Linked DNA regions of Homo sapiens. The gene in region 1 interacts genetically with each later gene. Each region holds a gene or a part of one and is shown in the gene's direction. Other genes may lie near its edges. The genes, in order: CD22 and CAMK2B.

What was found.
Region 2: changes in CD22 (region 1) and CAMK2B together harm fitness more than expected from each alone (negative genetic interaction), as found in Homo sapiens cells (one large-scale study listed by BioGRID).

The regions. Positions count from the first base shown.
Region 1 is NC_000019.10:35,332,135-35,335,941, forward strand, and holds part of CD22 (B-cell receptor CD22 isoform 1 precursor), read left to right. Parts: intron 1-412; coding exon 413-790; intron 791-3,807. UniProt on the Homo sapiens protein: Most highly expressed siglec (sialic acid-binding immunoglobulin-like lectin) on B-cells that plays a role in various aspects of B-cell biology including differentiation, antigen presentation, and trafficking to bone marrow.
Region 2 is NC_000007.14:44,217,397-44,221,203, reverse strand, and holds part of CAMK2B (calcium/calmodulin-dependent protein kinase type II subunit beta), read left to right. Parts: intron 1-302; coding exon 303-378; coding exon of another isoform or gene 379-382; intron 383-493; coding exon 494-588; intron 589-909; coding exon 910-1,142; 3' UTR 1,143-1,144; intron 1,145-1,681; 3' UTR 1,682-3,807. UniProt on the Homo sapiens protein: Calcium/calmodulin-dependent protein kinase that functions autonomously after Ca(2+)/calmodulin-binding and autophosphorylation, and is involved in dendritic spine and synapse formation, neuronal plasticity and regulation of sarcoplasmic reticulum Ca(2+) transport in skeletal muscle.

The DNA.
Region 1 (3,807 bases):
GAGGAAAGACCCAGGCAGAGAGGCGTCAACATAGGGTAGGGTGGGGGCAGCGGTGTGTATAGATAAATGTACATACAAATATATATGTTTCCCATATATACATACACTTCTCTCATTGCATCCTGCTGTCTTTGTGTATCTCTGTATTTCTCCCACTATCTTCAGAGGGAATTCTTTAGTCTTTAGAAAGCTCTCTGCTGGGTGCAGTGGCTCATGCCTGAAATCTCAGCACTTTGTGAGGCTGAGGTGGGAGGATCACTTGAGGTCAGGAGTTCAAGGCCAGCTTGGACAACATAGCAAGACCCCTATCTCTAAAAAGAATAAAAAATTAAACAAATTTTAAAATAAAAAATAACTTTTAAAAGAAGGCTCTCATGCCCCCTTAGTAATGCTTTCTGATCACTGTGGTGAGTTCTAGAATACTTGGCTTTCTCTGACTCAAGTAAATGGGTTTTTGAGCACCCTGAAACCCTCTACGCCTGGGAGGGGGCCTGCGTCTGGATCCCCTGCACCTACAGAGCCCTAGATGGTGACCTGGAAAGCTTCATCCTGTTCCACAATCCTGAGTATAACAAGAACACCTCGAAGTTTGATGGGACAAGACTCTATGAAAGCACAAAGGATGGGAAGGTTCCTTCTGAGCAGAAAAGGGTGCAATTCCTGGGAGACAAGAATAAGAACTGCACACTGAGTATCCACCCGGTGCACCTCAATGACAGTGGTCAGCTGGGGCTGAGGATGGAGTCCAAGACTGAGAAATGGATGGAACGAATACACCTCAATGTCTCTGGTAAGGCCTTCGGGGAGCGGGTCCTCTGCTCTGGGCAGGGGTGAGTGGGAGGCAGGAAATACCTGACTCCTGGCACAGAGCTCACAAACCGAGCTTCCTGCAGAGCTCAGGCAGGGGACGCCAGCGGATGACGATGGCGATGCAGCAGCACTAGACAGAGCTGCGGGACCTCGGATGTCCCATCTGACCCTCAGTTCCTGCCCCTCTGGGACCTGGATTCCAAAGTTATCGGATCTCCTGATCTTTCCCTCTTTCTTTCTCACCATGTATTTTTCAGCTTTTGTGACAAACTCGTGTTTGGCCTTAGTACTGGAACCATCCAAGCACCGCATTCCTTTAGTGGGGTGGGTCTGCATGTAACCAGCCTCAGCTCTCCCCCAGGCTGGACCGCCCCCTTCAGACATTGGGGTCTGAAGCTGCATCGCTCACCCCAAACTTAGGGCTGCTCAGAGCTCCCTATAGAGGAAACTGGGTGTGGAACGGAGTAACCACACTCCCTAGGGCAGAGGCCCCAGACCTGTGTTTGATGGGTCAAATCCACCCCTACATGTGCAGTGCCATAACTGAGCCTGTGTTATAAAAATCATAAAATGTTTGTTTTACTTTTTTTCCTCTTCTTTTCCCCTTCCCCTTCCTTTCCCTTTTTATGAGACAGGGTCTCGCACTGTCATCACCCAGGCTGGAGTGCAGTGGCGCGATCTCAGCTCACTGCAGCCTTGATCTCCCGGGTTCAAGCAATCCTCCCACCTCCAAAGTAGCTAGGATCACAGGTGCATGCCACCATGCCCAGCTAACTTTTTAATTTGTTGTAGAAATGGGTCTTGCTATGTTGCCAGGCTGGTCTTGAACTCCTGGCCTCAAGCAATCCTCCTGCTTCAACCTCTCAAAGCATTAGGATTACAGGCATGAGTCACCGCACCCGGCCTGATCTTCTGATTTTTCAAGAGACGATGGAAATCTAGATTTTCCAGTGAAATCTCCCAGCATGTTAATGTTCATGGCAAGTTCTCATGAGCTCTTCAAGGTCAGATGACACTGTTGTTGAACCCCAAAGGCCAGGTTTGAGCTCCCGATGCGTAGTCAGCCAAACACTGACACCTCAGTGCTTAGAAGCTGAGATAGGATTATTTAATTTAGCCAAAGCAAGGGGACAGAAGAGAGAAACTCTCAAATCTGACCTGACTTTGAGCGTTAGTGGGGGCTTTTATGAGTAAAGTAGGTGTGCAGGAGGTGACCTCCCGATCGTCAAAGCTGTTGTGCCCCTCGGCTCATCAAATTTCTGGATGTCATCAAGGAGGTCTGTGTGACCTAAGGATCATTGTTCTTTGAAAGAGAGACAAGTTCATTTATCTTGCAGGCAGCTGCCAGGGAGTCAGGATGTAAGTTAAACAATTATGAGTGAATTAATGGTTACCTGCTACTGAAATGACCAAATGTAACTAATCATGCATGGAGGAAGGAAAGGACAAAGAGAAAAGAAAAGAAGTAAAACGAACATCTTATAATTTTTATAACATAGGTTCAGTTATAGCACTGCACATGTAGGGGTGGCTTTGACCCATCAAACACAGGTGTGGGGGGCCCCTGCCACAGGGAGTGTGGTCACTCCGTTCCACACCGTTTCCCGGATGGGCAGTTCTGAGCAGCCTTAAATTTGGGGTGAGCAATGCAACTTCAGACCCCGCTGTCTGAAGGAGGTGGTCCAGCCTTGGGGAGAGCTGAGGCTGGGTGCACACAGACCCACTCCACTAAAGGAATGCGGTGCGTGGATGGCTGCAATACTGAAGGAAGCCATGAAAGTAACACAAGTTTGTCAAAGCTGAAAAGTCCGTGAACTAAACTGATAAAATTCACTTAGAGGTGGTGGGAATAGGCCGGGCACGGTGGCTCACGCCTGTAATCCCAGAACTTTGGGAGGCCGAGGCAGGCGGATCACAAGGTCAGGAGATCGAGACCATCCTGACTAACACAGTGAAACCCTGTCTCTACTAAAAATGCAAAAAGTTAGCCAGGCGTGGTGGCAGGCGCCTGTAGTCCCAGCTACTCAGGAGGCTGAGGCAGGAGAATGGCGTGAACCCGGAAGGTGGAGCTTGCAGTGAGCTGAGATCACGCCACTACACTCCAGTCCGGGCGACAGAGCGAGACTCTGTCTCAAAAAAAAAAAAAAAAAAAAAAGAGGTGGTGAGGTGGTGGGAATAGAACTTTGCAATCATTCAGAAAGCAGACATCCGGCAATGAGCATGAAAGAAAAGTAGATCACAGTTCCCAAGGAGGCTTAGTGTGGTCAAGGCCTTTCAGAGGGGATTTCGGGTGAGCAAAAGTGATTCAAAGTGGAGAAAAGCAGGACTGCGTTGGGTGCAGTGGTTCCCGCCTGTAACCCCAGCACTTTGGGAGGCTGAGATCGGAGGATCGTTTGAGCCCAGGAGTTTGAGACCAGCCTGGGTAACATGGCAAGACCCTGTCTCTACAAAATGTTTAAAAAACTAGCTAGGTGTGGTGGCACATGCCTGTAGTCCCAGTTACTCAGGGGGCTGAGGTGAGAGGATTGCTTGAGCCTAGGAGGTTGAGGCTACAGTGAGCTAGGATTGCGCCACTGCACTCCAGCCTGGGTGACAAAGCAAGACCCTGTCTCTAAAGAAAAAAAGAGGCCGGGTGTGGTGGCTTACACCTGTAATCCCAGCACTTTGGGAGGCCAAGGCGGGAGGATCACTTGAGGTCAGGAGTTCAAGACCAGCCTGGCCAACATGGCGAAACCCTGTCTCTACTAGAAATACAGAAAAATTAGCTGGGTGTGGTGGTGGGCACCTGTAATCCCAGCTACTCGGGAGGCTGAGGCAGGAGGATCACTTGAACTGGGGAGGTAGAGGTTACAGCGAGCCAAGATCGCGCCACTGCACTCCAGCCTGGGTGACAGAGGGAAACTCCATCTCAAAAAAACAACAACACAACAACAACAACAATAACAACAAAAAAACAAAGCAGGACTGGAGAGAGGTGGAATGAAGTGGCAAGGGGTT
Region 2 (3,807 bases), on another chromosome or scaffold:
ATTGTGGGTGGGTTTTTTGTCCTCTTTCTGCATTTTCCAGGCATTTTGTAATGTGGATAGAATATTTCTGTTCTTCAAAAATACTTTAGTTAAGAAAAATAAGATGGAAGCTGTTGCACTTGAAAATGAGGAAGCCACTGGTGATGCAGGGGGGGCGGCGGAGAGGACCTCTTCTGCAAATAGCGGCAGGAACACGGCATGGATGCAGCTCGCGCTCCCCCAGGCCCTCCCCTGGGCTGTGTGGAGGGGTCCGGGGGGAATGGGCCAGCGCCCAGTGGTCACCTGGCCATGTCTCCCCACAGCCCGGAAGCAGGAGATCATTAAGACCACGGAGCAGCTCATCGAGGCCGTCAACAACGGTGACTTTGAGGCCTACGCGTGAGTCCCTGGGGCTGGGGGGGGGCTGTGCAGGACAAGGATGTGGGACCCTTGGGGGGGCCTGCTCAGAGTCAGGGGTCCACGGGGCCCCTCCTCACTTGGATTTGGCCCCCAGGAAAATCTGTGACCCAGGGCTGACCTCGTTTGAGCCTGAAGCACTGGGCAACCTGGTTGAAGGGATGGACTTCCACAGATTCTACTTCGAGAACCGTGAGTGAGGAAGCCCGGGTGGGCATGAGGGGGCGGTGCCCCCAGGAGAGCCTCTCGGCCCCTCCCAGGGACAGCATGGTGGCTGCCTATGGAAGCCCTGTCCCCTCTGTGCCCAGGGTTGGCCAGCCACCTCTCCCCCGCCAGAGGCCATACCCAGCCCCCAGAATCCCACTCTTGGAGGGGCCCATGCTGCTCCCAGGAGAGCCGAGCCTCCCCAATAAGGGGAGTTGAGAGAGGGAAAGGATTAGGCTGGTGGGGTGGAAGACGGGCACCAGGGCAGTCATGGTAACCCGAGACCCCCGCCCCGCCTGCTGTCCACAGTGCTGGCCAAGAACAGCAAGCCGATCCACACGACCATCCTGAACCCACACGTGCACGTCATTGGAGAGGATGCCGCCTGCATCGCTTACATCCGGCTCACGCAGTACATTGACGGGCAGGGCCGGCCCCGCACCAGCCAGTCTGAGGAGACCCGCGTGTGGCACCGCCGCGACGGCAAGTGGCAGAACGTGCACTTCCACTGCTCGGGCGCGCCTGTGGCCCCGCTGCAGTGAAGGTGAGTGTTCTGTGCTAAGTGACAGCTGGGGCAGAGGGGTGGCGGTGGTGTGAGTGGCTGCAGCCTGGGGAGGCGATGGGGAGCGGTGGGGCCTGTGCAGAGCCATGCCTGGGAAGTCCCTGAGCTTTCCTGGTGAGGCCACAGGAATGATGTCAAATTAGGGACCACGGCAGGCTGGGTGTGGCAGGCCTCCCCAGAGGACTGGGGAGCTGGTGAGGGCCTGAGCAGTCCACACTGGCCAGAGCTGGGTGGGTTGCAGGTGGATGGGCCCCGGGCAGCACAGTCCTGGGCACCATGCCCTGTTTGTGAGGACTGTTAGAGCCCCAGATGGGCGTTCCCCAGGTGGTGGGTGCAGCGGGCCCAGAGCCCAGTTTTACAGGGATAGTAGTAATTGGGTTGGGCACCTTGAACCTCTCTCCCGAGTGGGCCCTTTTCTGGACTTTAACCCTCTCTGCAGTGCCGCATGGCAGACAGCAGAGCCTGGGGGTGGATGGGAGAGGGGGCTGCTGAGGAGCTGACCCACCCGCCCCATTTCAGAGCTGCGCCCTGGTTTCGCCGGACAGAGTTGGTGTTTGGAGCCCGACTGCCCTCGGGCACACGGCCTGCCTGTCGCATGTTTGTGTCTGCCTCGTTCCCTCCCCTGGTGCCTGTGTCTGCAGAAAAACAAGACCAGATGTGATTTGTTAAAAAAAAACAAAAAAAAAAAAAAAAAAAACAAGATGACGACGACAACCACAAAAAAAATTGACATCAGATGAAATGAAAAAAAAAAAAAACAAAAAAAACTAAAGGAAGGAAAAAGCTGTAAAAATCACTGGCATTCGTGGGGCCACTCCCCACCCAAGCTCCACGTGTGTCCGTCTGTGCTCCTGGCCTCTGGGGGACCAGCTGGGACATGAACTTGTCTGCCAGGCCCCCGTCGCGTGCTGAACGGTGTTAGTTTGTAGGTAACGCACACACCCCACACCTAAGGTGTCTGCATCCTCCTGCCAACGCATGGGCTCCACGTGGTGTGCTCGCTGGCTGTCGTGACTGTCAGCTGTCTCTTGGGAGGGGCTGTGGGGGCCCGCTGGGCTGCCTCCTTTCCCGCTAGTTGTGCCTGAGAGTTGCTGTTGTTCCTGCTTTCCCTTCCCTTCCTTTCATCCCCTGAAGGGCTAGGTGTGGGTTTTCCGTGCCCGGTATCCCCACACACCCAGCACGGACAACCCTTCGGCAGAGCCCAGGCCGGCCCCTCACCCCCTGGAGTATTGAAACTGGAGTCCCGTCCCCAAGGCCTTCAGAGATGCCCCTACACACCCAGGGCTCCAGCTCTGGTCCTTCTGGGGGAGTAAAGTGCAAAGAGGGGCACAGCTTAGTTTTGGGCCTCTCGCCGAGCAAGAGACAGCACTGCTGGCTACAGCTCCAACACAGCCAGCTGTGGCAAGAGGACTCTGCCTGGGCTGGCCCCCCTCCTGTGTGAGGTGTCTGTCCCTTCTCTGCTGGCCAGCAGCAGATGCACTGGCAGCTCCCAACCCTGTTTCCGCCCCTCGGCCCTCCCCCAGCCTGTTCGGCTTCTCTGCAGCCCGCAAGGGGGAGCAGACTTTTGACAAAGGACTGCGGGCCTCGCTCAAGTCCCTGAGCCCCCAGCTGAAGCTGGGAGGGGAGGCCAGGCTTTGTGTCTGGGCATATTCGTCTGCTGATGGGGTTTGGGGAAGCCTGGGGCTTGGGGTTTGGTCGGGTGGTGCAGCTAGTGGCAGAGCGGGATCAGAGGTGGTGGCTGCCCAGCTTCTGGGCTGAGACAAGGGTCTGTGCAGGGGTTTACTGAAGTGGGAGTGCCTTTGGAATCTGGGCCGGGAGCAGAAGGGAGCAAAAGCTACAGTGGGAGCCAGCCTAGGGCACATGGGAGGCGTGAGGGCAGTGCTGCCCGTGCAGTGTCAGGTGTGCCAGTGCCTTGGCGGGCTGCAGTGCGTGTGAGGGCACCTTCTAGGTGGGCCAGGGATGCAGCTATGGAGATAAGGCGGGCTGGGGACAGAAACAGGTGGGCACAGGGCCCAGGACACCAGCGGATGGAGGGCAGGGTCTAGCCCTGTGCTCCTGAGCGTCGGCTGCCTGGGTTCGAGGCGGTGGGTCCCCGGCCCCTTGTGATGGTGTGTACCATGGGGGAGCTCGGGGACAGGGCAAGCCCGAGCATGGTGGGGCTGCAGGGTGGGTCTGAAGCCAGGTTGGGTGGGGGTGGTCACAAGCCCTGACTGCAGAGGGTCAGGGGCTCCTGCCCCAGTGCCTGCCCACTTTCAATTCACATTGTTTTCAACAAGGATTTTCTTTATCTTCCCCTACAAATCAAGCCAAGGGAGGGGCACAGAATGGGGAACAGGACACAGGATCCTAAACTCCAAGGGGACTGTCCACCGATGAACACTCAGAGTGGACACCATCTTCCGTCCACGCTGTGCCCAGGACAGCTGTCCCCATCCATGAACACAGGGTAAACATCTGCCGGGCTCCGCACCAGTGGCTCCCTGGGCCATGGGACAGCGGCAGGGCTCACCACGGACAGCACGTGGCCCAGCAGCCGGCCACCCTGGCGTCCTGGGGCCTCCTCCCCTCCTCTCCCTCTCACCTTGTCACCTCCACGGAGCTGCCTGTCTGGGATAATTTGGGGATTTTTTTTCTGGGGGATAATT